4 linked regions of the Homo sapiens genome follow. The protein of the gene in region 1 purifies or fractionates together with the protein of each later gene. This does not show direct contact. Each region holds a gene or a part of one and is shown in the gene's direction. Other genes may lie near its edges.

Region 1 (7,026 bases):
TTCCAGGAACTAGTGGGGCCTGACAAACATAGATTCACATCTGTGTGTCTCAAGATGCTGGAATAAAAGAACTGAGATTCCTGTCTGGAAACTGTTGGATTAAAATGGAAATTTTATAGCTGTGATAATCTCCTTCTACAGATGCCTTTTTAAAATTGACTATTGGTAGGAATTAGAATTTACAAGAGAGCAAATGAAGGATAGAAGAGAAATTCTCGAAGAGTAAAAAGTAATAAAACAAGGTCATAGGAAAAGGGAAAATAAGAACATACAGTAGGGAATAGATCTTGATAAATTACCTTTTAAAACAATAAATCTTGATTTATTTAAAATTGTAATGCTATTTTCTATATTTTTTAAATTATCTAGATTATTTGTTCACTAAGTGATCTGGGTTAGCATTTTTCCATTTTTAAGTAGTGTTCATGTGAATGTTTGTGTGGATGTAATGTGTGCTGTATACACAGTCTCTAATATTTTTGTTTGAACAAATAGCAAAATGAAATAAATTACTTTATGAGATTGATAAAGTCCTAGAGAAACAGACCCACTGTAGATGTTCCAATGAAAGGTGTACTTCATAGTCATTTTTCAACACTCACTAGCACTGAGTACACAGAATAACATGGCACTTTAATCACAAGTTATAAAGATAATTTTAAAACAATTTTATTTCTATATGAATATTCCACACTGCAAGGTTGCTTTAGAAGAGATGATCTTGTATTTTTAAAACTATATTACAACATTGCCATATATATGTATACTAGAAAATATTGGATGGTACTGTGGTTATTTTTTGTCAATAATTTCTCAATCAGTTAAAACTACGTGAGACATAAAACATTCCATAGAATTGAGTCAATTTCTCAGGTGTTTAAACTAATTTTGTTTTATGTTTATTACTCCACATGTCTTTATATCATTTATAAAGTTTACTGAAATTCATTGATTGATGCTTTGAAGCTGCTTAAATCTTGACCTTGTACTTATCTAATTTTTATAAAATAGTTGCAACTATCTTGTGAGTATAAGATTTTTATATATTTTTATATTCATTTCCTACTGGCACGTTAGTACCAAATATTTAGCTGGAAGAACATTTTGAGTTATTGATGTATGTACTCTACTGAGAAATGTGACAAGGGGTTTTTACAAAATTTGCTTATACTAGAAGGTAGATTTTTTTACTAGCTGATATATAAAATAAAGCAGGAAACAAAAAGCTTTTAACTGAATTTAAATAACTTTAAAATAATTTTCTATTAAATCCATCATTGATATCATCTAGAATGCACCTTTCCCCACACATATTATTGGAGCATTAGTTTAATATTTGAGTGTGAGGTAGAAGTAAAAAAAAATATAAAGTAACAACACAAAAAAATCATGAAGTAGAACACAACTTTGTTCATTTGGAGAAGTATCCCCTTGCTAAGTCTCACTGAGTGTTTTACTGCCACCTCTCTCCTCACATGGCATTTCTTCCTTTTTTGTTTAATCCCCCGAAGGCCCATATTCTGCCACGAGGAATCACACTTGAAAGCAGTGTAACAATTATGCATCTCTCTGACTCTTGCTTCTGCCCAAGAATTGAGCTTTTTAGCTGCATTATTAACCTGAAGACAGATCATCTGTTCTTTCTGAGCATACTTTTCTGTGTCCTCTGAGACAGCTCAAGACATTTTTCCAACTTCTCCATTTCTGCCATAGCACTAGTGAGTGACTTTGAGTTGAAATACAATTTAAAAATAATACATTCTCTCTCTTTTTTCTTTCTCTCGTTTCCTCTGTCCCTTCCACTCTCTTTCAGATTATTAGTTTATTAAATGTCTTCACACCCCAGAAAACGCTGGAGGAGTTCCAAGATGTGTAAGTAACAAAACTCATGAAGGAAGGGAGAGCACAGCACTCAGATAGCCCAAGGGAAAATCACACACCACACACACACACACACACACACACACACACACACACACACAGAGTTGAAATCCCTTATACTGCTCAAAGAGAGGTAAGAGGTGGGGTCAAATGAAAGGGGTCCAGTGATATGTAAAGAAGATTCTGTTTGTGGGGTTACTTCCTGGAAAGACATTCTGCCTCCTTTTGGCCTTGTGGCTTTATATACTTTGTTGTTCCATGCTCTTGGTCACTCAGGGAAGGCTTATTTATTTATATTTATTAATAGATTCCACAAACTTTCTACAATGAGTTAATTTACCTGAAGAAATAGTAATAAGGCCAGGCATGGTGGCTCACACCTGTAATTCCAGCACTTTGGGAGGCCGAGGCAGGTGGATCACAAAGTCAGGAGATCAAGACCATGCTGGCCAACATGGTGAAACCCCACCTCTACTAAAAATACAAAAATTATCCAGGTGTGGTGGCATGCACCTGTAGTCCCAGCTATTCAGGAGGCTGAGGCAGGAGAATTGCTTGAACCCGGGAGACGGAGGTTGCAGTGAGCTGAGATCGTACCACTGCACTCCAGCCTGGGTGACGGAGCGAGACTCCGTCTCAAAACAAACAAACAAAAAGAAATAGTAATAAAAGGGACGTGAAAATTATCTTTATTCTTTCTATCTTTATAGTGTCATTGATTTTGTGCAAAGTCTACCCAGTAGTGACAACAGATGGAGGAGAGGAAGTGATTCCCTAGCACCTTGTCTTTAATACAGATACATTGAATTTAATGGAAGAAGCTGTCCTTAATTTTTTTCTTATTTGAAATTATAATATTCACAAAAGAGTTGAGGGAATACAGGGGAAAGTGAAAGCAAAATTAAGGTAACAAATCTGTGGACATGAACCAGACATTAATAAATGCTTTTTCTACTAGCAACCTTTTGGTAGGGTTCGTATAGCTAACACACATGCAATACCTGGAAATGCTCAGTCTTGATTAAGTCAAAGGCAGAGCTAAGAAGTTCAGAAGACTTACAGAGTTAGGAGAGCATTCTGACTAAATCAAAGGACTTCATAGATCTTGTGATCTGGAACTAACACTGTGGATTCACCCTTCTAGTTACTTAGTAATGGAACTGATGGATGCCAACTTATGTCAAGTGATTCAGATGGAATTAGACCATGAGCGAATGTCTTACCTGCTGTACCAAATGTTGTGTGGCATTAAGCACCTCCATTCTGCTGGAATTATTCACAGGGTAAGAACACCTTCTCTAGGATTACAATTCAAATGCTTTAAGAGGAAGAGTAACTGTAGATTATTTTCTTTATACGGGGGGCATTGGTCAAATATAATATACTTCCTCATTTCTTTGATACTAGAATTAGCACCTAGTTCACTAATTGTAGAAGGAAATTCTAGTTATATTGTAGTTGAGTTTGTTCAATGTTATGTTTTGGCTCATTGAGATGCAGCTTCTTAGAAGCCTCATGCTTTCAGCTCCTTGATTGGCAGAAGTCATATGTGCAACTGAAATAAGAAAATTCATTTCCATAGATGTTTCTGGCAGCATAAAGACAGCTTCCCTGATCTGTTCTTCTGTCAGGCCTAGAAATGATATATATGTTGAAAGATTTATGTTGTCCTAAGGAGAAACCTAACAGAAGACAATAAATATTTTTTTTTCTAAAACCTCTTCCCAAGATTAGTGTAAATTGTGAAAATGATAATACAATTCTTTTCTGGGATTAAAACACTTTCCAAAAACTAATAGTTAACTTATTTGTAGCAGTAATCATTTGCCTTATTTAGAGCTCTGTAGGCAAGGGGGACCTCATCAGTGCTACTGCAAAATGGCTATGTTGATTGAGTCAATGGAAATAACATTTCACTTGATACTGGCTTTTAATTTTTTCCCTTATCCTTACTGTTAGGATTTAAAACCAAGTAACATTGTAGTCAAGTCTGATTGCACATTGAAAATCCTGGACTTTGGACTGGCCAGGACAGCAGGCACAAGCTTCATGATGACTCCATATGTGGTGACACGTTATTACAGAGCCCCTGAGGTCATCCTGGGGATGGGCTACAAGGAGAACGGTAGGGATGCTTCGGGAGAGCAGCATCAAAACCATGAATGAAACGGGTGCACGTTGTAGATAGCCAAGGGGAATGTTCTCTTTTATGTACATGCTTTTATAAAGTAGGGCTGCCAGATAGCATATTCAGGGTTTTTTTTAATACTACTGGTAAGAAACACTCATTAAAAATGTGAAGGATGTTATTGAGAAGTCAGTTTTGCTAGAAGAGCACTAAATGTTAATAGTGAAAAAGAATTGTAAATGGAGTCTGATTAAACAGTCAAGCGGATGCTGATTAGCACACGTGCCTAGATATTGAGAAAAATTGCTATTTGGGTTGCAGCTCAGCTGAGCATGAGTGTGAAAGCAGAAAGGAATCTACCACAGTTAGCCATGTGGCTTTTATGTTGTATCTCAGACTGATGGCTGTAGTTCTAGAAAAAGACAAGCAAAAAAGTGACACAAATCCTTAGAGTGAAAATCTTCATAGACAACTTTGAAATAATCCAAATTATTTAAACTGAATAAGAATTTCTGTAATAATTTAAGCTGCTCTGTAAGAAACATTTAGAGTAGCAATTGCCTAATAAATCCTTATATATTCCAAAAATCGTAAAAAAGGAAAATGTCAAATTTGACACTACTGCTTTCATAAAGAAAACTTAATGTTCATGAACACTTTAAAATGAAGGCTATGGAAGGAATCTTAAAAATGTATCACAATTGAGTGTAGTTGATTAAAACTAAGGATTTATTAAATATGTTAGAAAGCATTGCAATGTATTATTTTGATGAGACTATATCTTACAAGTAATGCACCATATTGAAAACATATTCAATATACTTAGGAATTAAAATAGTTTTAAATTAGGATTGTATATGTATTCAGTGTATCTTTAATATTTATTTTTATATTCTATTCTATTTAGTTTTTAGCAGTCTGTATTAATAAGTTTTATAAAAATAATCAGTGTATTTTTATGTACAGGTGCTACAGGGTACTTTTGTGAAAATTCCCTGGCCACTGAAGTTTACAGAAACTTCTTTGTATACTCTTAGATTAGAAGACAGATAATGTATGTATGCATTTATACAGAGGAAGTTAAAAAGTCACCTCTTACAAAGGTCAGGTTCACCCTGGTGGGCAATATCGGAGTTCTGGTACCTTTTGACTCAGAAGAGATGAATCTAGCCCTCCTTGCTAGGCAATACCACATCTAATTTATTCAGAAAAGAAGACATTTTTATACTTTCTTCACGAGTTATTTTTAAAAAGTCAAAGGAGAAACAAAGTCAAGAATCAAGAATGTACAGGAGACTGGGGGGTGGGGCGGTCTGAATTTGCCTATTTGGGCTTTCAGATCTTGGCACTACCAATAGCTGGTATTAAAATCCCTTTCCCTTCCCTCACTAGAAGGAATTGCAAGTTGCTGCCTTAGGTTTTTGACTTCTCTAAGTCCATGGAGGAGGCCTGCCTAGCACCCTGGTGCTGCCCTCCCACCAATGGGAGGAAGGTTATCATGCAGAAAAACCTGCTTGCTCCCACATCAGGCATGCCCTGCTGTCCCCTGCACCTAGCCCCGCCTTCCTTCCCCATGGAACAATTCGGCCAAATGATTCTGCCCAAAAGTTCCCTTTGTCCATAATGAAAAGCAAGTTGGAAAGGGGTAAAGATTGGTAAGAGAAGGCAAAGCATGTTTTCCTAACAAGTTTGACAATTTGGAAATAAATATATGTACATAACAATTTTTAACACCTTTAATACTTTTTTCACTTTCCTTCCAGATGACTCCTTTATACATGTGCTAATTCATCATATGTCTTTTTTCTTGAAATATTTCAAATGGAAACTAAAACTGATGTTTATTTACAAGAATAAACTTCTGAAGGAAAAGCTAAGTCCCAAATACCAGGAATTCCAATTCTTTTGCCTCTAAACCATGGTTCCAGTCATTTCCTGGTTTATTGGATTTGGTTGAATTTATCTTGTTTTGCCCCGGCCCCCTGGCCCCCTGAAAAAAAAGGTGGTCTCTTGTTGCCCTATTCTCTGTAACTGAATAGAATAGAAAATGAAAATAGCCAACTCTACAAGTTAATATTGTTTTCTATGCATCCGGAAAATGACACAGAAAACCCTTTGGTGGCTTTTAGCTGTCACCTGCCATGGAGATACTTTTGGTTTAGCTATTGCTTTTCTCAGTCACCAATGTCACCACTTTGTGGCACTGCTGAGAGGCAATGTAAGGCACCCACAAAGTAATGGGTTTTTAAACATTAATTTGAGTTCTCATACTAAACACTGTTTATGTAATAGCATAGCGCTGGTTTGAATTCACATTTTGGCCAACTTTTGGTGGGAGGTGAAAATTGTACTTTTAATCAAACTGTTCTTTTTCCTCCTCCTTCAGAAGTCAATTATCTTAGTTAACTTTACTTTCCTCCCTTTTCTTCACTACCCTCTCTCTCCTGTTCTAGTGGATATATGGTCTGTGGGATGCATTATGGGAGAAATGGTTCGCCACAAAATCCTCTTTCCAGGAAGGGACTGTATCCTTGTACCTTTTGCTACAGCTTTACCTGTTTTGTTCTCTCTCCCTTTTAAACACATAATGATTTTACCAGGAGAGTAAAGATAGAAGCAAAAAGTTGGGTAAGTGGTGTTATTGTAATAAAAAAGTGATAATTTCTATAATCTGACCAGTACTGAAGACTGCCTACCACAATGATTTCTTTTAATTAAATTTCAATGGGCTTTTTTCTTCTAAAATTACTTTCTTGCCTGCAACTAAAAATAGAAATGCTATTTTTCTTTAATAACAAAGGCTACCAGATCCCAAATGATTAAAATATATTTACCTTTATAACTAGCAAAATAAGTCACTATTTGCAAGTCATTTTCCATCTCCTTTCTAAAACTATTTTGTGCTTCTACAATATTTAGGCATAATAATTGCTCTCCTTGCTGACATTCTAAGCTTCTGTCTATGGCTTTGTTGATTTAAATTACTCGACACTAAATCAAGTCTTTAACAGGTCAAT
Region 2 (7,026 bases), on another chromosome or scaffold:
AGTGGACACTGTTCACATATTTGATTCCTTCCTTCCTTCCTCTCTCTCTCTCTCTCTTTCTTTTTTTTGATGGAGTCTCGCTCTGTTGCCCAGGCTGGAGTGCAGTGGTGCAATCTTGGCTCACTACAACCTCAGCCTCCCGAGTAGCTGGGATTACAGGCGCATGCCACCATGCCTGGCTAATTTTTGTAGTTTTAGTAGAGACAGGGCTTCAACATGTTGGCCGGGCTGGTCTTGAACTCCTGACCTCAGGTGATTTGCCTGCCTTGGCCTCCCAAAGTGCTGGGATTATAGGCGTGAGCCACCATGCCCAGCCCTTGACTTCTTTTTTTTTTATTGTGGAGAAAGGGCTGTGGCCAAAGTCCAAATCTGAAGATGATCCTACAGACTTCTTGGTAGAACTTTACTGCTGCCCTCTCAGACTTTTCTCCAGAGCAATCCAAGACCAAAAAAGTGCTTTAAGTTCATTCATTTCTCTAACACACTCGCCATGCTTCTTACCCACTCAGTAGCCTGCAGCTGACAAGACCAGACAGCTGGTGATTGTGGGTAGGTTAGGAAACTGAGCTGAGTGTCCCCTTTTCTGGGATACTGCATGTCCAACAAGGCCCAGTGACAATGCTGAGCCTGACCCTTTTCATGAAGGCTCAGTGATTCTTCTCCAGCCATGAGGTGCCTGAACTTCCCCTGCTAGGGACTTTACACATGTTGTCTCCTTAAACCCTCAGCAACATGGTCAGGTAGGTACTAAGTAGCATACTAATTTTATGGCTGACAAAACTGAGGTTAGAGAGATGGAGTGATTTGCCCAAGATCACACAGCTAAAAATGGTAGAGCTGGGATTTATACCTGCACCCCAAGCTATATGAGACAGTAGCAGTGTGTGGTCAGTGGCAGAGGAGATGGTGGTGCCCATCAGCTGGTGACTTCGGTCCAGTGGTATTTGTAGTAACAAACTCAAACTCACTGGATTTTCTTGTGTGTTTTCTTTTATTGCTGCTGTGCTCAACTATTATCAGAAAAAGTTAAGTAACAAAGCCAGCTGAGATCAAGGGCTCATTTTAAAAACAACAACCAGGACAAGCAGTGATCAGGAGATTTATGTATTCATGTATGTATTTACAGCCTGCCTTGTTCCAAAAAGGATTTAAGGGGCTGGGTCTAGGATTTGCTTTTAGGAGATTGTAGAAACAGTCCAGCCACCCATACTGCACCCACCAGGGTATTATTCAGGGGTCATTTGGCTTCCAAAAGAGGTCACCTGAGACCTAGCATGTTCCCTAATTAGCAGAGAAAGTTTGAATCCTTCAACTTGATTAAGAGTAATTTAGGATGCTTTCACAAGCAAAGATTGAAAGAAATTGTGGTTTCATAAGCAAAGATTGAAAGAAATTATGGGAAGAACATGGGTTTCAGAGTCAAGAAACCTGGGTTTCTAGTCTTGGGTCTGTCTACTGTCTAACCCTGGGCAAGTCACTTTACCACTCTGATAATTAGTCTTCCCATCTGTAGTGCAGGAGGTCAGATTAAATATTCTTTCCAGTGCTTTTGGATTTAGCTTTTCAGAAGGCAGAAGATCACCTTCACCTGTCCCTCCAAATTCTTTCTGATTGCTGATTTCCCACCAGGACTTCGTCTTCTATGCTCCCCGGCTGCGGATTAACAAGCGGATCTTGGCCTTGTGCATGGGGAACCATGAACTATACATGCGCCGTCGCAAGCCTGATACCATTGAGGTGCAGCAGATGAAGGCACAGGCCCGGGAGGAGAAGCACCAGAAGCAGATGGAGCGGTAGGTGCTGCACACTGATGTGGGGGGCCAGGGCTGGGGCAAGGAAGCTTCTCAAAGGTGCCCTGCATGCTAAGTCAGGACATGAGGCCAACCTAGGACTTCATAGATGAGAGGTTAGACACCAATATTCACATTTATTCAGAAAAAATCTACCAAGTTTGAGGGGCAGTTTTTACAGAGCTGGATCTAGCAGGAAACTGCCCTGTAGGACCTCACAGTCTACTCAGTCTAGTAGCAGAGAGAGGGAAAACAATATATACATAACTCAAGGTACAAAGGCCATGTCATTCATTCACTTAATAAATATTTATTGAGCAATGAATAAGAAAAGACCAAAAATCTCTGCTTTTGTGAAGCTAGCATTCTAGTGGGGAGGAGACGAACATAATAAATAAGCAAATTATGTGGTACATAAGATGGTTAAGAAGTGCTATGGAGACAAAAACATAGAAGAGGGATGGGGAGAAGGGTAAGCCAAGTATTCTGAGGGCCCAGATGGAGAATACCTAGCCAAGGGAGATAAGAAGGTTCCTGGAAGAGGTGCTAGGGCAAGAAAAAGCAAAAGCAAATACTTATTCCAGATTTGTAACAGACTCTGGGAAAAAGAAGCCTAGAGCTGGGCTTTAGGGCAGGCAGTGTTAGACCTGAGGACTGATGCACTAGCCGTAGAGATTACTAGACTTGAAGCACTTCATCCCAGCACAGAGCCAAAACTTGTCTCCCTAACAAGGTGGATAGGGCAGGTCTTATTGGACCATTTTCAAGATAGGGGAACAAGAGCAAAGCAGTGACATAGCTAAGGTCACCCAGTGGGTTGGTGGGAGAGCTAGGATTCCTGACTCAGGGGTACATTGACAGGGCCCCGTGTACACTGGCCTATGTGGGGCTATGATATGAGGACAAGGGTATAGAGGTAAGGGAGGGTGGCCCAAACTCACAATCCCTAAGTGTGTTGGGAAGGTTGGGTTGAGAGACCCAGAGGCAGCAAGCCTTGGAATTCCCCAGGCTTTTTTTTTTTTTTTTAGATGGAGTCTTGCTCTTTTGCCCACGCTGGAGTGCAGTGGCGCAATCTCAGCTCACTGCAACCTCCGCCTCCTGTCTTCAAGCAATTCTCCTGCCTCAGCCTCCTGAGTAGCTAGGACTACAGGCGCATGCCACTATGCCCAGCCAATTTTTTTTGTATTTTTAGTAGAGACGGGGTTTCACTGTGTTAGCCAGGATGGTCTCGATCTCCTGACCTCGTGATCTGCCCACCTCGGCCTCCCAAAGTGCTGGGATTACAGGTGTGAGCCACCGCGCCTGGCCTCCCCAGGCTTTTGTGGAGCGTTGTTATCCTGTTCTATCCATTTTATCTCCTTCCCTAGTGCTATGCTGGAAAATGAGAAGAAGAAGCGTGAAATGGCAGAGAAGGAGAAAGAGAAGATTGAACGGGAGAAGGAGGAGCTGATGGAGAGGCTGAAGCAGATCGAGGAACAGACTAAGAAGGCTCAGCAAGGTGAGGCTTGGAGTCACCTTGGAGATTGGATTTTTCCAGGCCTAACTCTGAGCTGGAGAACCTTCTGCCTGAGCTGTAGACTCAGACAATGTAGTTCAGGTGTGGCTACAGACTAGAAGAAGAATGGGCAAGAAGAGAGCTCAGAACTTTCTGCCAGCTTTGTCTTGGGGTGGATCATTTCCAGGAACGAAGCTATTGTGTCGTCTTTATCTCTGTGCTCTTCACTGCCTTCTCCCCTCCTTTTCTGCTCAGAACTGGAAGAACAGACCCGTAGGGCTCTGGAACTTGAGCAGGAACGGAAGCGTGCCCAGAGCGAGGCTGAAAAGCTGGCCAAGGAGCGTCAAGAAGCTGAAGAGGCCAAGGAGGCCTTGCTGCAGGCCTCCCGGGACCAGAAAAAGACTCAGGAACAGCTGGTAAAGCTGTAGGGTGGGCTGGGATTATGGGAACTGAACTTTCTTCCTTGTCTGCCTACTTACTTATAGCTACTTTTGCTTACATGCTGGCTTTTTAGAGCAGGCTACCACTCCATGGGCCTCCAGCAAATAACTAGTTCAGAAGCAAGCTGAGAAGTCACTAGTGTGGCCCAGAAATTTTTGCAGTCTTCCCTAACCCTTAGTTTCTGTTCACTTTCTTAACTCTTGGGTATCTGAGCTGATTGACCTGGCAAAGGAAAGGGAAGGAGAAAAGAACAAAAGGGACTCATATTTGAGCTCCTGCTGTATGTTGCTGTGTTGGGAATATTTCCCTTTTCCTTACTTATTTCTTCTTCCCAGTAACCCTATGGGATTAACCTCATATGAGATAATATCCCAGATAAGGAAATTAGAGCTCAGGGAAGAGATTCACCAAAGATCACACAATTGTAGCTAAATAAGGATTAGAACCCACCCATTTCTGCCTCTGTTTGAAAGCTTTGCTCCCTGAAATCACATGCAAAACTATGTGTCTATGCATTTTTGGGGCATTTGGCATCCATACTTTCATCACAGTTTCCAAGGGTTCTGTGACTCAGAAGTTAAGAACCTGTGGTCCAAACTCCTTGACATATACTCTTCCTTTGTACTGTTGGAGGTGGGAATAGAGGGAACCAAGACCTGTCTCTCATGAGGAAGCTGTCATGGGAGATTTACCCAAGGTGTGCATAAGCTTTTTTCCTTGTTCAGATAGCTTTGTGACACTTGAGTGTCTTTCCTGTACTTGTCCTGGGAAGACTCTTAGTCGAATCCTGAGCATTCTAGGATATCAGGAAAGGATCTGCCACTTCAGGAAGTGACCCAATGATGGCCAAAGCTTTACTGAGGCCCCCAGCTGCATACTTGCCAAGAGGGGCAGGGGGAGAGATAATGAGGAAGGGACAGAGATGGCATATTGTTTGTCTTCAAGAGGCCTACAGTCTAGGTGGGGGAGCTCTGACTTAAAAGGAAGTGGTGGTCAGGGAAGATGGGACTGGAATGAAGTAGTCTGGTAAAAGAGTCTCTGAGGCAGCAAGCAAGTGGAGCAGTAGGTCCCTTACTAGTCCCCCAGGGGACTTGGGTTGAAGACACCTGGGTCCTGAGGACCAGAAGGCCCAGCTCTCACAGGCTTCCAATTTATCCGTAGGCCTTGGAAATGGCAGAGCTGACAGCTCGAATCTCCCAGCTGGAGATGGCCCGACAGAAGAAGGAGAGTGAGGCTGTGGAGTGGCAGCAGAAGGTAAGACACAGGGCCTAAAGCAAAGCATTGAAGGAATGGGTGCCATATGCATAGGTAACAGCTCCTTAGATTCCTTATGTTTTGGCTCCCTCCCTCTTTCATACTTCCCACAGCAGGCAGCATGGGAGAAGGCACTCATGGTTTCGTCAAATACTTACTGGAGTTCTCTAATACCTCTAGGAAGTTGGTACAATTGCTCTTGTTTTATGGATGAAGAAACTAAGGATCAGGCAGATGAAGTGCCTTGTCCTACCTGGTGCCTGCCTCTTGCCAGACCGTTCTAGGCATATACAGGATGCCACAGTTTAACTGGTCTCACTGACAGTCTTTCTCTCCTTCTGTCACTGGACAGGCCCAGATGGTACAGGAAGACTTGGAGAAGACCCGTGCTGAGCTGAAGACTGCCATGAGTACACCTCATGTGGCAGAGCCTGCTGAGAATGAGCAGGATGAGCAGGATGAGAATGGGGCAGAGGCTAGTGCTGACCTACGGGCTGATGCTATGGCCAAGGACCGCAGTGAGGAGGAACGTACCACTGAGGCAGAGAAGAATGAGCGTGTGCAGAAGCACCTGAAGGTATACAAGTAGGGCCAAGGGGCAAGGAAACTATATGCATTGATTTAGTAGCCCATGGCATTCCCTAGACCATCATGGGGGATAGGTATAAGATCCTGTCCCAGTGTTGTATGGGAGCCCAAGCCGTTCTTAAGTGACAGCTTTAAGGATAGGCACCTCTCACTTATTAATCAGACCTTGGGCTATCTCTTCCCTTTTTGAGATTTTCTCTCTGCCCCACCTCCCACTCACTCCATTCACCTCTTACATTAAGAAAATATCTAGCTGACAAAATTCCCACCTGAATCTTTTGTATGTTGTTCTACTCTTAAAGGATACCCATTATCAACTGGTCCCCTAAGTTTATTTATTTTTTTTTAATATTCTTGCCCCACTGCAGTTCTAACAGAGTTGGAAATGACTCTCAATATTTATATATAGAGAGAAAGGGTGAGGAAGAAAGAAGGAAACAGAAGAGAAGGGAAGTCTGGTCAAATAACAGGAGGTAAAATGAGAGAAAGCCATTGACCTCTGTGTTCCCATACATCCTCACAGGCCCTCACTTCGGAGCTGGCCAATGCCAGAGATGAGTCCAAGAAGACTGCCAATGACATGATCCATGCTGAGAACATGCGACTGGGCCGAGACAAATACAAGACCCTGCGCCAGATCCGGCAGGGCAACACCAAGCAGCGCATTGACGAATTTGAGTCTATGTAATGGGCACCCAGCCTCTAGGGACCCCTCCTCCCTTTTTCCTTGTCCCCACACTCCTACACCTAACTCACCTAACTCATACTGTGCTGGAGCCACTAACTAGAGCAGCCCTGGAGTCATGCCAAGCATTTAATGTAGCCATGGGACCAAACCTAGCCCCTTAGCCCCCACCCACTTCCCTGGGCAAATGAATGGCTCACTATGGTGCCAATGGAACCTCCTTTCTCTTCTCTGTTCCATTGAATCTGTATGGCTAGAATATCCTACTTCTCCAGCCTAGAGGTACTTTCCACTTGATTTTGCAAATGCCCTTACACTTACTGTTGTCCTATGGGAGTCAAGTGTGGAGTAGGTTGGAAGCTAGCTCCCCTCCTCTCCCCTACCACTGTCTTCTTCAGGGTCCTGAGATTTACACGGTTGGAGTGTTATGCGGTCTAGGGAATGAGACAGGACCTAGGATATCTTCTCCAGGATGTCAACTGACCTAAAATTTGCCCTCCCATCCCGTTTAGAGTTATTTAGGCTTTGTAACGATTGGGGGATAAAAAGATGTTCAGTCATTTTTGTTTCTACCTCCCAGATCGGATCTGTTGCAAACTCAGCCTCAATAAGCCTTGTCGTTGACTTTAGGGACTCAATTTCTCCCCAGGGTGGATGGGGGAAATGGTGCCTTCAAGACCTTCACCAAACATACTAGAAGGGCATTGGCCATTCTATTGTGGCAAGGCTGAGTAGAAGATCCTACCCCAATTCCTTGTAGGAGTATAGGCCGG
Region 3 (7,026 bases), on another chromosome or scaffold:
TTTTTTGTATTAATGATAGGAATTGTTACTGCAAGTTTGTATGCTGGTAAGGATGGTTCTTTAGGTGAGAATTGATATAGGGGACTAGGGGACAGTGCAAGAACAGAGAGGGAAATGGAATCCAGTACACAAGTAGAGAGGCTACCCATAGAGAGGAACATGGACAGCTCATTCATAGTAGTAGGAGGTTCAGGGTCAAGTGCAAGTGGATTGGTAGAGGTAGTAATGGGACAATGTTTCTATTTTCTCAAAGAAACAATGTCATTTGCTGACAGTAGGGAGGGAGGAAAGTGAAGGAGGCTTGAAGAGTGAGGAATGTTGAACATAGTGTTATTGTTTCTAGATATGTTTACATTCTGTTAAGAGGTGGAGTAATCTAGTTAAAGTAAAATTTTGAAAACTTCCTTATAATTATGTTGAACTAAAATAGTTTAAAAATATATAACAAAAATTAGTTATAAAGGATTCATAAGTAGAAATTCCATCCCCTGAATGTTTTGTAAATGAATTTTATAAAGTTATAAAAATATTGACTCTTGAAAGATTATTTGGAAAACAGGAAGAAACACCTCCTTTCCAAATCATCTATATTCCTACTACCCAGGCATAACCCCTACTCTTAGGTCCCTCCCATTTTTTTTCTTTTTAATGCCAAGTTGTTTTTTTTTTTAAATTTATTTATTTATTTATATTTTTTATTATACTTTAAGTTTTAGAGTACATGTGCACAACGTGCAGGTTTGTTACATATGTATACTTGTGCCATGTTGGTGTGCTGCACCCATTAACTCATCATTTAACATTAGGTATATCTCCTAATGCTATCCCTCCCCGCTTCCCCCACCCCACAACAGGCCCCGGTGTGTGATGTTCCCCTTCCTTGTCTGTTGTTAAAAAGAACAGTTATAGGCATGCTTCATATGCAATTTGTCATTCTATGCTTATCAGCTAGCCCTATAAATATTTTTCCATGTTATTACATACTTTTTATAACCATCAAATAGTTGGGTCATTATTTGCTGAATAATACCCTATTGTTGGACATTTAGGTTAACAATTTTTAGTTGTTCCATATAATCATTTTGAATAAATGTTCCTAAGAAACTCATTGTATACGTACCTTTCATTACTTGATAAGCTGTGTCATATTTTTGAATCACATAACTTAGAAAATAATTCTGGCTTGACTTTTTATTGTGACTTCATAGTCACACTGTGTTAAAGTAGATTCTCTTTCCTAATTTTACTAATTATATGTTAGGTTTAAAGTCAATGCAAGGAGGTGGGTGAGGTGGTGCACTCCTTTAGTCCCAGCTACTTGGGAGGCTGAGGCAGGAGGATTGCTTGAGCCCAGGAGTTCGTGGCCAGCCTGGACATCATAGCAAGACCCCCATCTCTGAAAACAAAAAACAAAAACACCAAAAACTGTTAAAATTGGTACAAGGAAACAATGTGTGTCCTGGAAGTATTGATGTAACTTTAATAGTACAATGATAATTTTATACCAAATTTTAGAGTATATATTCAAAGTAAGAAACATTAATATTTTTAATAGGTTGATCCAAGGATTAGTTTTGGATCATGGTGCCCGTCATCCAGATATGAAGAAGCGAGTAGAAGATGCATTTATCCTTATTTGCAACGTTTCACTGGAATATGAAAAAACGTGCGTGTTACTTTCTCTTTATAACTTTTGAATTTTTTTTTCTAAAGGTGTTTTAAAATCTCTTTTTCCTTCCAGATGTTTGGTGTAGACTACTTCTATCTTTTTTCCTTTTTCCTCCTGCCTTTACTAGCTGGTTTTTATTAATCTTTTAGAGAGGTGAACTCTGGTTTCTTTTATAAGACTGCAGAAGAGAAAGAGAAATTGGTAAAAGCTGAAAGAAAATTTATTGAAGATAGAGTACAAAAAATAATAGACCTGAAGGACAAAGTCTGTGCTCAGTCAAATAAAGGATTTGTCGTCATTAATCAAAAGGTGAGAAAGAAAGTTTAGATTTTAGTTATTTGTAAATGTTCTTAAGCATTTCTTGAAGTGTGGTCTGTGGACCCCTAAGAATCCCTAAGACTTTTTCAGAGAGTCTGTGAGGTCAAAAACTATTTTCATAATAATAATTACACCTTTTACATTGTGTTGACATTTGCAATGATGCTGCAAAAGCAATCTGTAAAACTGCTGGCACCTTAGTACAAGTCAAAGAAGTAGCACCAAACTATACTAGTAGTCATCGCATTCTTTATTGCTATACCACTGCAAACTTACAGTGAAAAAAAAAAAAGGCAGTATCATTTAAGAGTGTCTTGATGAAGTGGTAAAACTTATTAATTTATTAAATTTTGATTCTGAAATATGCATCCTTTTATTATTATGTGTGACAAAATATGAAGTATGCACAAAGCACTGTTTTTTTTTTTTCTTTTGAGACAGGGTCTTGTTCTGTCATCCAAGCTGGAGTGCTTGGGTGGCACCATCATAGCTCACTACAGCGTTGACCTCCTGGGCCCAAGTGATCTTTCCACCTCAGCTTCCCAAGTAGCCAGGACTACAGGTGTGCATCACCATGCCTGGCTAATTTTTAAGTTTTTTCGTAGAGGCTGGGTATTGCCATGTTGTGCAGGCTGGTCTCAAGTGATCCTCTTGGCTTGGCCTCCCAAAGTGTTGGGATTATGGGGCTGGGAACTTCAAAGCTCTTCTATTGCATACCAAAATATGATGGTTGTCTTGAAGGAGAGCACTTGTGTAATTGTTTAAATTGCAAGGTAAACTAGCCACTTTTTCATGGAATGCCACTTTTACCTGGAAGAATGACTGACAGACAAACTGTGGTTATCTAGATATGGGTATTTGGTAGATTTCTCTCAAAAATGAATGAGGAAATTCTGTGACTTAAAACAACTGACAGTATTTGTTGTCAATAACATTTGAACTTTTTTAAAAAATTAGAATTTCAGAAAACTTGTATCTGCCATGTGAACTTGACAGCTTTCCAATACTTAAAAGACTTTCCTGATAATAGTAGTGATATTAACAAATGTGAGTTTTTGTTCACTGAGATAGGCAAAGTTTCCACATGCATAACATGACACAGTTTCTACATGTATAACACAACATTTTATATATGAAATGTGTCAACATGTGGAAACTTTGCCTAACTCAGTGAACTGATGCTATCTACATGACTAAAAATGCATGATTTTTATAAAATCATACATGGATAAATAATCCATTCAGTGTGCAAGTTACAGCAATGTGTTTTAATGTGAGATAGTATGAAAAGTTCATTGCTATGGTTCCATAGTGAAACTAACCTTTGAGAAACTATTACTTACTGAGTTTTGGTATAGTATCAAAGAAGAATTTCCATAATTATCTGAAAAGCCTATTAAAATATTACTCCCTTTACAATATTTATCTGTGTGGGGCCAGATTTTCTTCATAAACTTGAACCAAAATAACATATCATTCCAAATTGAATACTGAATGAGATATGAGAATCCATTTGTTTTCTATGAAGATAAACATTGAAGAGATTTGCAAAAATGTAAAGTAATGCCACTGCTAGCTCACTATATATATTTTTGTTTTCAAAAGTGTAGTAAATTTTCATTTAAAATGTTATGTGTATTAACATAAAATGGGCTTATTATTTAAATGAATTAATAAATATTTTAAAAATTTCTCAGTTTTTATAATACAAATATTATAGATAGAGCTTACATAAACAAAAGCTTTTTGGGTGCTTAATCATTTTTAAGAGAGTAAAGTGGTGCTGAGACCAAAAGGTTTGAGAAATACTGGTTTAAAACATGTTTATAATTTTTATGTTAATTTGATTATAGGGAATTGATCCATTTTCCTTAGATTCTCTTGCAAAACATGGAATAGTAGCTCTTCGCAGAGCAAAAAGAAGAAATATGGAAAGGTAAGCTTGCAGATAATTATATATCCTAAGTTTTTAACAGAGTAAATGGAAACTATCCCATGTGTTTTCCTTTTAGCTTATGTGTAAATGTTGTTGAACAAAACAGTGGCATAAAAAAATCCAAATTTTGTTTTTAGTTTCAGTAAATAATTGAACTGTCAAAAAGCAAGGTTGTTAACCTACTGCAGAACTTTGTTGAAGTATAAGGAAAGTTTTTATCTTTTTAAAACAGATTTTAAAAACAAAACAATACAACATAATACAGCATGATCTCACTTTTATATATGGAATCTAAAAAAGTTGAACTCATAGAAGTAGATAGTAGAATGGCGGTTACCAGGGGCTGGGGCAGTGGGAGGGGAGGGGCACTGGGAATATGTGGGTCAAAGGATACAAAATTTCAGTTAGTTAGGAGGAATAAATTCAAGAGATCTATTGTCCAACATGGCAACTGTAGTTAATAACAATATATTGTTCTTTTTAAAAATCTTTTGCAAACCCACCCGAGAATGCACAATGTGTTGGATTCTTGAAAAATGCTGAGAGTAGATTTTAAGTGTTCTTATCACACAAATGGCTAAATCAAGCCTCACATAGGCAATATGTATGTTAATTAGCTCAATTTAGCCATTCCACAGTGTATACATATTTAAAAACATCATCATGTTGTACTCGATAAATATAGACAATTTTATTAGACAATTAAAAACCCAAAACAATACAATACAGTAACAATACAGTCTTCTGCATTAGATATCTTCTCTCTGAGAAATTAGTATTAATGTTCTCCATAATCAAGCTATGGTGACATATATGTAATTTCAGACTCTCTCTTGCTTGTGGTGGAATGGCCGTGAATTCTTTTGAAGATCTCACTGTAGATTGCTTGGGACATGCTGGTCTTGTGTATGAGTATACATTAGTGAGTATTTCTATGAACAGTGGTTATAAAGTGAATACTAAGCCCCCTTTTTTAAAGAAAAATACTACTTGACCTTTTATTTCATGTTTTGTGTTTTGAGATCTAATTCACAGAACAGATTTTACAGTTTATTTACCTAAATGTTTGTTAAGAGTTCAGATATAACTTAACTCCCTTAGTTATGCTTGATAAGAAAAATTCAAATGAAGATTGTATTCTAGTATAAATTGTTGATTTTATAATGACATCAAATATTAAAGTTATATATTTTTGTGCCACCCTTTAGGGTGAAGAAAAGTTCACTTTTATTGAGGAGTGTGTTAACCCTTGCTCTGTTACCTTGTTGGTTAAAGGACCAAATAAGCATACTCTCACACAAGTCAAGGATGCCATAAGAGATGGACTTCGTGCTATCAAAAATGCCATTGAAGATGGTAAGCTCTTTCTTGTGATTGATATGAACCTCATGTATATGTGTGTATATATGTATATATATATACACACACACCTATGTATGTATATATGTATATTTTTAGACAGAGTCTTCCTCTGTTGCCCAGGCTTTAGTGCAGTGGTGCGATCTCAGCCCACTGCAACCTCTGCCTCCCAGGTTCAAGTGATTCTTCTGCCTCAGCCTCCCAAGTAGCTGGGATTACAGGCACACACCACCACACTTGGCTAATTTTTTGTATTTTTAGTAGAGATGGGGTTTCGCCATGTTGGCCAGGCTGGTCTCGAACTCCTGGGCTCAAGCGATCTGCCCTTGTTGGCCTCCCAAAGAGCTGAAATTACACGTGTGAGCCACCATGCCTGGCCTTTAAGTCTTTTTAAATTTTATTTTTATTATTAATCTATTTAATCTATTTATTTCTTTTGAGACCAGGTTTTGAAACTGGCTAATTTTTGTATTTTTGGTAGAGATGAGGTTTCACCATGTTGCCAAGGTTGGTCCTGAACTCCTGGGCTCAAGGGATCCACTTGTCTTGGCCTCCCAAAGTGCTAGGATTACTGGCATGAGCCACTGCGCCTGGCTGCAAACCTCACATATATATATTTTTCTCAAGACAGGGTCTTGCTCTGTCACCCAGGCTAGAGTGCAGTGGCACAATCATGGCTCACTGCAGCCTCAAACCCCTGTGCTCAAGTGATCCTCCCACCTCAGCTGGACGATAGGTGCATGCCACCACACCTGGCTAATTTTTAATTTTTTTTTGTAGAGATGAGTTCTGTCTATGTTGCCCAGGCTGGTCTTGAACTCCTGGCCTCAAGCAGTTTTCCCCCTTCAGCCTCCCAGAGTGCTGGGATTTGTAGGCACGAGCCACCACATTCAGCCCATGTTGAGCATCTTTTAATGTGTTTATTTGCCCTTTGTATATCTGGTGAATTTTCTGTTTAAATCTTTTGCCCTTTTAAATAATTGGATTGTTGGCCATGCACAGTGGCTCTCACCTGTAATTCCAGCACTTTGGGAGGCCAAGATGGGAGGATTGCTTGAGCCCAGGAGTTGGAAACCAGCCTGGGCAACATAGCAAGACCATGCCTCTACACACACACACACAAATAGCCAGGCGTGGTGGCCTGTACCTGTAGTTCCAGCTACTTAGGAGGCTGAGGCAGGAATATCACTTGAGTCCCAAGAGTCTGAGGTTACAGTGAGCTATGATCACACCACTGCACTCCAGCCTGGGCGTCAGAGTGAGACCCTGTTTCCAGAAAAAAAAAAAAGAGAAGAAAAGAAAAGAAAAAAATTTGTGTTAGTATACTATTGTTGAGTTTGAGAGTTCTTTGTATATAATTTGGGTACAAGTGCTTTTTCAGATATATAATTGGCAAATTTTTCTCCTCTGTGGCTTATTTTATTATTAACAGTGCCTTTCAAAGAGAAGTTCTTAATTTTGATGAAGTCTAATTTATTATTTTTATTCTGTCATGGATTATGCTTTTGGTGTGGTATCTGAAAAATCTTTACCTAACCTAGGGTCATAAAGATTTTCCTCTAAAAGTGTTACAGTCTTATGTTTTACATTTAGGTCTGTGATTCATTTTAAGTTAAATTTTGTATATGGTGCAAGTATGGATACAAGTTCATTTTTTTCATATAAAGGTATCAGATTGTTTTAGTCTTATTTGCTGAAAAGACTTTACTTTCACCACCGAATTGCCTTTTCTCGTGTATAAAAA
Region 4 (7,026 bases), on another chromosome or scaffold:
TCCTTCTCTCCTGTTCCACCCCATTTATTGTGAGGCTTCTGGTCTTGAAGTCACTTCATGGCCCAAGATGGAGTTCTGGCTGTCGTGTGCGTATTTCAGGAGGGGAACTGGTAGGAAGCAGGGCAAAGGGTTCCCTTTGACGAGTATTTCAGGAAGTCCCACACAGCATGTCAGTTTACTTCTCCTTGGCCAGACTAAGTCATGTAGCTGTACCTGCATAGTTGCAAGCATAAAACTGGGGTTATGTCAGTAAGGAAAGAGAGGCGAGTGGATATCCAGGAGGCAGCTTGCCCTGTTTGTTGCAGTAAGGAGCCACGGGAAGCCTGGGAAGCAGGTTGACTTGATGATGAATATTCCATGAAGTTGCCAAAGTCTCACTTAGCGACATTTACTTAGTTATCTACACACCAATTTACCATCTCACGTAGGGAGACAATTATTAGATTGTTAAGGAACAAAGGTAAAAATAAGATTAAAAGAGAGAAGGGAGTAGAAGGAAACCATACAATCTGGGAACAGTGAATCTTGCTGCCAGAAACCTACGAGCTAGCCTGTTCATTCAGTGCTTGTGCAGGCTAGCTAGGAGTATCAGAAACATTTTGGCTCTTTATGGATTTTCCAGAACACCTTGAGTATTTAGCAGTGGAGCACAGGCTGCAGGCTACCTTGATGTGATGCCTGCCAGGATCCTCCCATCAGCACCACCCGTTTAGTTAGGCCAGGCCTGTACCATTTCCTGCATCTCTATTTCTCAGTGTTACAGGGTGGATAGGGTCTTAGGATACCCACTGCGGCAGAGGGAGAAGAAAGCAGGGTCCGCATACAGTGTCTACTCCATTTGGGTTTGGTGTCTCAGGGCGGAAGGGGCCTTTGCATTTACCCCCATTTCTCTGTGTGCTTTGCTGGGCACACCAGCGGCACTGGCTCTGTGGGAGCTGCTTGAGCTCACCTCTGCTGGCCTCTTCCGAGGCTTGGGAGGCAGAAGAGGGCAGAGTCCTATCAGAGTCGCCAGGATGGGGTCTGGCTGGCCACCCTCAGCGGAACCAGTGATCAGCTCTTTTCTTTATCCCCAGGAAGTCTCTCAGTGCTCTGGCCTTCTCCCCTGATGGGAAGTACATAGTGACAGGGGAGGTGAGTCGTGATCGTGACTGAGTGGGAGTCGGGGGCTGGGGGGTCTTGGAAGCCATTCCTTCTGCTCCCGGCAGGCCTGGGAGTCCCTGGAATAGCTCCTTCCTGGGCCAGAACAGCCCTGTAGCAGATGGGGGAGGTGGCTTTTGGGCACATCCTGTGGCAATGCCATCTTCGGCCTTGACAACCCTCTAGCCCTGCCCAGTACAGAGCCCAGCAGCAGTAACGACCCCACCTTCCCTAGAATGGGCATAGGCCTGCTGTGCGCATCTGGGATGTGGAGGAGAAGAATCAGGTGGCGGAGATGCTAGGCCACAAGTATGGTGTGGCGTGTGTGGCCTTCTCACCCAATATGAAGCACATCGTGTCCATGGGCTACCAACATGACATGGTGCTCAACGTCTGGGACTGGAAGGTAAGAGCCGACCAGCAGGCCTGTGGCAGGCAGCCAGCTGCCACAGCATCCTATGTCTTGGGCACAGGGAGAGCTACATGAGAGGACGCAGTAAAGTGCTCACTCACCCAACAGATAACAGCTATTGAGCACCTGTGACATGCTGATCCCTTATTGTAGGGCACAAGGCAGGCTCCCAGCTAGAAGCATTATACATATTTTTATATTGACCAGCTGTGACCTTAGGCAAGTGACTTAACATCTCTGTGAGTCTGTTTCCTCCTCTGTTAGATGGATATAGTAGTACTTATCTTGTTGAGTTGTGAGACTTTAATGAGTTGATAAGCACTGGAAGGCTGGGCTTTGGAACAGCTGTGGAGCTGGCAGAAGTGGGTACCAAGTCCTGGCTCTGCCCATAACCCACTATGTGACCTTGAGCACATGACATCTCCCCCTCTGAGCCTGGTAGGGTTGGGGAGAAGCGCCTCCCTCGTGGGGCTTTTGAGGGATTGAGGAAATTTCATGGGTTATCCTGTGAAGGGCTCAGGGCAGGGCCCAGAGCAGGAGCCCCATCTGTGACAGCCATAGGTTGTGTTGTCCTTACATCCCAGCCGTGACTGTCCCCAATACCATGTGTGGGCTGCAGAGCTTAGACCCTTGGAGAGAGCTCTGGAACATACTGTCCCATGGGGACCATTCCAAGCCTCTGTCCCTTCCTCTGTCGGTGAGGAATGAGCAGGGTGCCCCACATAGGTTTCCCCATACAGCAGCTCCCTGGAGGGTCCCAGGAAGACAGACTTGGAGTGGGGACGAGCAGGGAGTTCCAGCCTGAGGGCAAAGGCACAAACAGTCCAGTGGAATGAGTGCTGGCATGAGCTTCTCTGCACTTATTCTTCCAGAAAGACATCGTAGTGGCCTCCAACAAGGTATCTTGTAGAGTCATTGCCCTCTCCTTCTCAGAGGACAGCAGCTATTTTGTCACTGTTGGGAACCGCCATGTGAGGTTCTGGTTCTTGGAAGTCTCCACTGAGACAAAGGTGAGTTTCTGTCCCTGCCCCTTTAGCCAGGCCCTGAGGGAGTCACCATCGGTGGCAGCATGGTCTCCTGTTTCTCCCTGAGATTTGAGGGCAGCGGTCTCGGGCCATTTGGCCTCTCAGGGGCCCAGCTGCTGCTTCTGGGCCTACTCTCAGGGTGCTGATGCACAGGCCCTGCCAGGAACCCCCTGACCCTGGGACCAGCTCTCATTCTTGGACTGCTGCTGTCCAGCCCCTCTGTCCAGAGTGGCAGGGTTCTAGTGTTTTCTTCCCTTCTCCATTTGGAAGAGCTTCTTAGAGTTCTCCTGTTTTGTTGTGTCCTATCATCTGGTCATGCAGGGCCCAGCTGTGTGGACAAGTATCTCACTACGCCCTCTGTGTCTCCAGGTGACGAGCACAGTGCCCCTTGTAGGGCGCTCGGGCATCCTGGGCGAGCTGCACAACAACATCTTCTGTGGTGTGGCCTGCGGTCGGGGCCGGATGGCGGGCAGTACCTTCTGTGTGTCCTACTCGGGCCTCCTCTGCCAGTTCAATGAGAAGAGGGTGCTGGAGAAGTGGATCAACCTGAAGGTACCACCTCCCTCTCTGCCATCAGCTGGACAGACTCTTTCTCGTGATATGTGTCTGCAGGGGTGCTCATCAGCATTGACCACACAGGTTCTGCTTATGTGACTAGTGGTGAATGACGCCCACTCTCTGAGCTTAAGGTTCCACATCTGTAAAATGGGAGTACTGCTGCCCTCCCCGCAGAGCTGATAAGGAAGTCACGTGAGATAACATAGGCAAGGCAGTGAGCACGGTGCTTGGTACCCTGAAATGGGCTCAAGGTGACAGTTGTTTTCCCATGACTATTTGATCTACTTCACATTTCTTTTCTCCTTTGAGCACTCTGGCTGGTAGAGGATTGCATTTTTTTTTAATTAATTTATTTTTTTTTATTGATCATTCTTGGGTGTTTCTCCCAGAGGGGGTTTGGCAGGGTCTTAGGACAATAGTGGAGGGAAGGTCAGCAGACAAACAAGTGAACAAAGGTCTCTGGTTTTCCTAGGCAGAGGACCCTGCGGGCTTCCGCAGTGTTTGTGTCCCTGGGTACTTGAGATTAGGGAGTGGTGATGACTCTTAACGAGTCTGCTGCCTTCAAGCATCTGTTTAACAAAGCACATCTTGCACCGCCCTTAATGCATTTAACCCTGAATGGACACAGCACATGTTTCAGAGAGCACAGGGTTGGGGGTAAGGTCATAGATCAACAGCATCCCAAGGCAGAAGAATTTTTCTTAGTACAGAACAAAATGAAGTCTCCCATGTCTACTTCTTTCTACACAGACACAGCAACAATCTGATTTCTCTATCTTTTCCCCACCTTTCCCCCTTTTCTATTCCACAAAACCGCCATCGTCATCATGGCCCGTTCTCAATGAGCTGTTGGGTACACCTCCCAGACGGGGTGGTGGCCGGGCAGAGGGGCTCCTCACTTCCCAGAAGGGGCGGCCGGGCAGAGGCACCCCCCATCTCCCGGACGGGGCGGCGGCAGGGCGGAGGCGGACCCCCACCTCCCTCCCTGACGGGCCGGCTGGCTGGGCAGGGGCTGACCCCCACCTCCCTCCTGGACGGGGCGGCTGGCCGGGCGGGGGCTAACCCCCCACCTCCCTCCCGGACGGAGCGGCTGGCCGGGCGGGGGCTGACTCCCCCCACCTCCCTCCCGGACTGGGCGGCTGGCCGGGCGGGGGCTGACCCCCACCTCCCTCCGGGACGGGGCGGCTGCTGGGCGGAGACGCTCCTCACTTCCCAGACGGGGCAGCTGCCGGGCGGAGGGGCTCCTCACTTCTCAGACGGGGCGGCTGCCGGGCGGAGGGGCTCCTCACTTCTCAGATGGGACGGCCAGGCAGAGACGCTCCTCACCTCCCAGACAGGGTCGCGGCCGGGTAGAGGCGCTCCTCACATCCCAGACGGGGTGGCGGGGCAGAGGCGCTCCCCGCATCTCAGACGATGGGCGGCCGGGCAGAGACGCTCCTCACTTTCTAGACGGAATGGCAGCCGGGAAGAGGCGCTCCTCACTTCCCAGATTGGGCAGCCGAGCAGAGGGGCTCCTCACATCCCAGACGATGGGCGGCCAGGCAGAGACGCTCCTCACTTCCCAGACGGGGTGGCGGCCGGGCAGAGGCTGCAATCTCGGCACTTTGGGAGGCCAAGGCAGGCGGCTGGGAGGTGGAGGTTGTAGCTAGCCAAGATCGCGCCACTGCACTCCAGCCTGGGAAACATTGAGCACTGAGTAAACGAGACTCCGTCTGCAATCCCGGCACCTCGGGAGGCCGAGGCTGGCGGACCACTCGCGGTTAGGAGCTGGAGACCAGCCCGGCCAACACAGCGAAACCCTGTGTTTGGTGGAGACCAAAAAAATACGAAAACCAGTCAGGCGTGGCGGCGCGCGCCTGCAATCGCAGGCACTCGGCAGGCTGAGGCAGGAGAATCAGGCAGGGAGGTTGCAGTGAGCCGAGAGGGCAGCAGTACAGTCCAGCTTTGGCTCGGCATCAGAGGGAGACCGTGGAAAGAGAGGGAGAGGGAGACCGTGGGGAGAGGGAGAGGGAGACCGTGGGGAGAAGGAGAGGGAGAGGAGGATTGCATTTTTTAAAAATTGGAGGTACCATTGATTTAATAACTTTTCAGTCAAAAAAGACTACACAAAATACATAAACTTTTATTTATTTTTATTTATTTTTACTTTTTTTTTTTTTTTGAGATGGCGTCTCACTTGTTGCCAAGGCTGGAGTGCAGTGGCGCAATCTCAGCTCACTACAAGTTCCACCTCCCAGGTTCAAGCAATTCTCCTGCCTCAGCCTCCCAAGTAGCTGGGATTACAGGTGCCTGCCACCACGCACAGCTAATTTTTGTATTTTTAGTAGAGACAGGGTTTTACCATGTTGGCCTGGCTGGTCTCGAACTCCTGACCTTTAGTGATCCATCCGTCTTGGCCTCCCACTGCGCCCGGCCATAAACTTTTAAACTAAAGCATGATCTATCGATACATTGCAGAGCTTCTTTCCTTTAGTATCTGAAGGTTTGAGTCAAAGCTGTTTTCCCATCTGGAATCAGTTGCCCATTTGGCTATCCGCCCGAGCGTTGTGGTTTCCTCTCCTGTTCCTGGCCTGCCTTTGTGACTCACTCTGGAGATCACCTTCGAGGTTAATGGCTTGTGGAAGAGTTCCAAGTTTTATCTCTGTCCTAGTTGGTTAAACATCATTTTCTCTTTTTCAAGCAAGTGAAAAGCTTTCAATAGATAGATGTTTATTTCCTAAGCACTAAATGACTCATAAATTAAGTCCCTGTAGATTTGGAAAAACTCCTTAAACTGTATCTAGAGGTCTAGCACTTCCTAGTAGGATAGACAGTCCTTTCTAGATACTGTAACTTTTTTCTGTACCGCTTTGGAGTACAGTCTTTATGAAGTTGTTTGTAAGCAAAAGGGAATAAAATTTAAGCCTAAAGGCTGGGCGCGATGGCTCACATCTGTAATCCCAATGCTTTGGGAGGCCAAGGCAGGTGGATCACCTGAGGTCAGGAGTTCAAGACCAGCCTGACCAACATGGTGAAACCCCATCTCAAAATACAAAAAATTATCTGGGTGTGGTGGCGGCCGCCTATAATCCCAGCTACTCTGGAGGCCGAGGCAGGAGAATCACTTGAACCCAGGAGGTGGAAGTTGCAGTGAGCCGAGATTGTGCCATTGCACTCCAGCCTGGGCGCAACAAAAAACTCTATCTCAAAAAAAAAAAAAAATTTAAGCCTAAAATTCAACCCTGTTACTACAAGTGACTTACCTGAAGTTGCAGTCTGCTGAACAGGTATTTTCCATACACAGCTACGTTTCTCTGTAGACAGCAGTGACAATTCTGTTTCCGTTCATGCCTCTGCCTACCTGCTGGCACATGTCTTTCAATAGCAGCAGTATGCTATATCCTGATTTCACAAATCTTAAAATATGCTAAAATGGGTGTCTTAGACCCAAGGAACTGTAAGTCTTCTCTGGAGGCCTAAGGCTGCTCTGTCAGTCCCCATATCCCCGGGCCAGGCCACGTGAAGCACCAAATCCACTGGGGTCCCTTTTGCCCCTACAGGTCTCCCTGTCTTCCTGCCTCTGTGTCAGCCAGGAGCTCATCTTCTGTGGCTGCACAGATGGGATAGTCCGCATCTTCCAGGCCCATAGCCTGCACTACCTCGCCAACCTGCCCAAGCCACACTACCTTGGGGTAGACGTGGCACAGGGCCTGGAGCCCAGGTACTGCCCTGTGGGGAGAGGGAATGGGAGGGGCCCACCCAGAGTCTGTCCACTGGCATTCATCCATGCTTCCAGATCCATCTATCTGTCTGTCCATCCCACAAATACCCATCATGACTCTCAGCCCTGGGCATTACAAAGCAGAAAAGTCCTTGCCTTCCGAGGCAAGCCTCACAGTGAGAAGTGAGGCTGGG

Evidence for each region.
Region 2: the proteins of MAPK10 (region 1) and MSN purify together in Homo sapiens (affinity purification with mass spectrometry; 2 studies listed by BioGRID and IntAct, with this or other methods). This does not show direct contact.
Region 3: the proteins of MAPK10 (region 1) and CCT6B purify together in Homo sapiens (affinity purification with mass spectrometry; 3 studies listed by BioGRID and IntAct, with this or other methods). This does not show direct contact.
Region 4: the proteins of MAPK10 (region 1) and WDR62 purify together in Homo sapiens (affinity purification with mass spectrometry; 2 studies listed by BioGRID and IntAct, with this or other methods). This does not show direct contact.

Annotation. Positions count from the first base shown.
Region 1 is NC_000004.12:86,098,032-86,105,057, reverse strand, and holds part of MAPK10 (mitogen-activated protein kinase 10), read left to right. Parts: intron 1-1,813; coding exon 1,814-1,872; intron 1,873-3,025; coding exon 3,026-3,164; intron 3,165-3,840; coding exon 3,841-4,006; intron 4,007-5,772; coding exon of another isoform or gene 5,773-5,924; exon of another isoform or gene 5,925-6,456; intron 6,457-6,462; coding exon 6,463-6,534; intron 6,535-6,609; coding exon of another isoform or gene 6,610-6,617; exon of another isoform or gene 6,618-7,026. UniProt on the Homo sapiens protein: Serine/threonine-protein kinase involved in various processes such as neuronal proliferation, differentiation, migration and programmed cell death.
Region 2 is NC_000023.11:65,733,638-65,740,663, forward strand, and holds part of MSN (moesin), read left to right. Parts: intron 1-1,629; coding exon 1,630-1,793; intron 1,794-3,157; coding exon 3,158-3,288; intron 3,289-3,540; coding exon 3,541-3,701; intron 3,702-4,887; coding exon 4,888-4,980; intron 4,981-5,332; coding exon 5,333-5,557; intron 5,558-6,091; coding exon 6,092-6,256; 3' UTR 6,257-7,026. UniProt on the Homo sapiens protein: Ezrin-radixin-moesin (ERM) family protein that connects the actin cytoskeleton to the plasma membrane and thereby regulates the structure and function of specific domains of the cell cortex.
Region 3 is NC_000017.11:34,937,436-34,944,461, reverse strand, and holds part of CCT6B (T-complex protein 1 subunit zeta-2), read left to right. Parts: intron 1-1,555; coding exon 1,556-1,666; intron 1,667-1,818; coding exon 1,819-1,978; intron 1,979-3,840; coding exon 3,841-3,923; intron 3,924-4,748; coding exon 4,749-4,845; intron 4,846-5,131; coding exon 5,132-5,279; intron 5,280-7,026. UniProt on the Homo sapiens protein: Component of the chaperonin-containing T-complex (TRiC), a molecular chaperone complex that assists the folding of proteins upon ATP hydrolysis.
Region 4 is NC_000019.10:36,064,885-36,071,910, forward strand, and holds part of WDR62 (WD repeat-containing protein 62), read left to right. Parts: intron 1-1,073; coding exon 1,074-1,131; intron 1,132-1,372; coding exon 1,373-1,543; intron 1,544-2,421; coding exon 2,422-2,559; intron 2,560-2,943; coding exon 2,944-3,126; intron 3,127-6,671; coding exon 6,672-6,832; intron 6,833-7,026. UniProt on the Homo sapiens protein: Required for cerebral cortical development. Plays a role in neuronal proliferation and migration.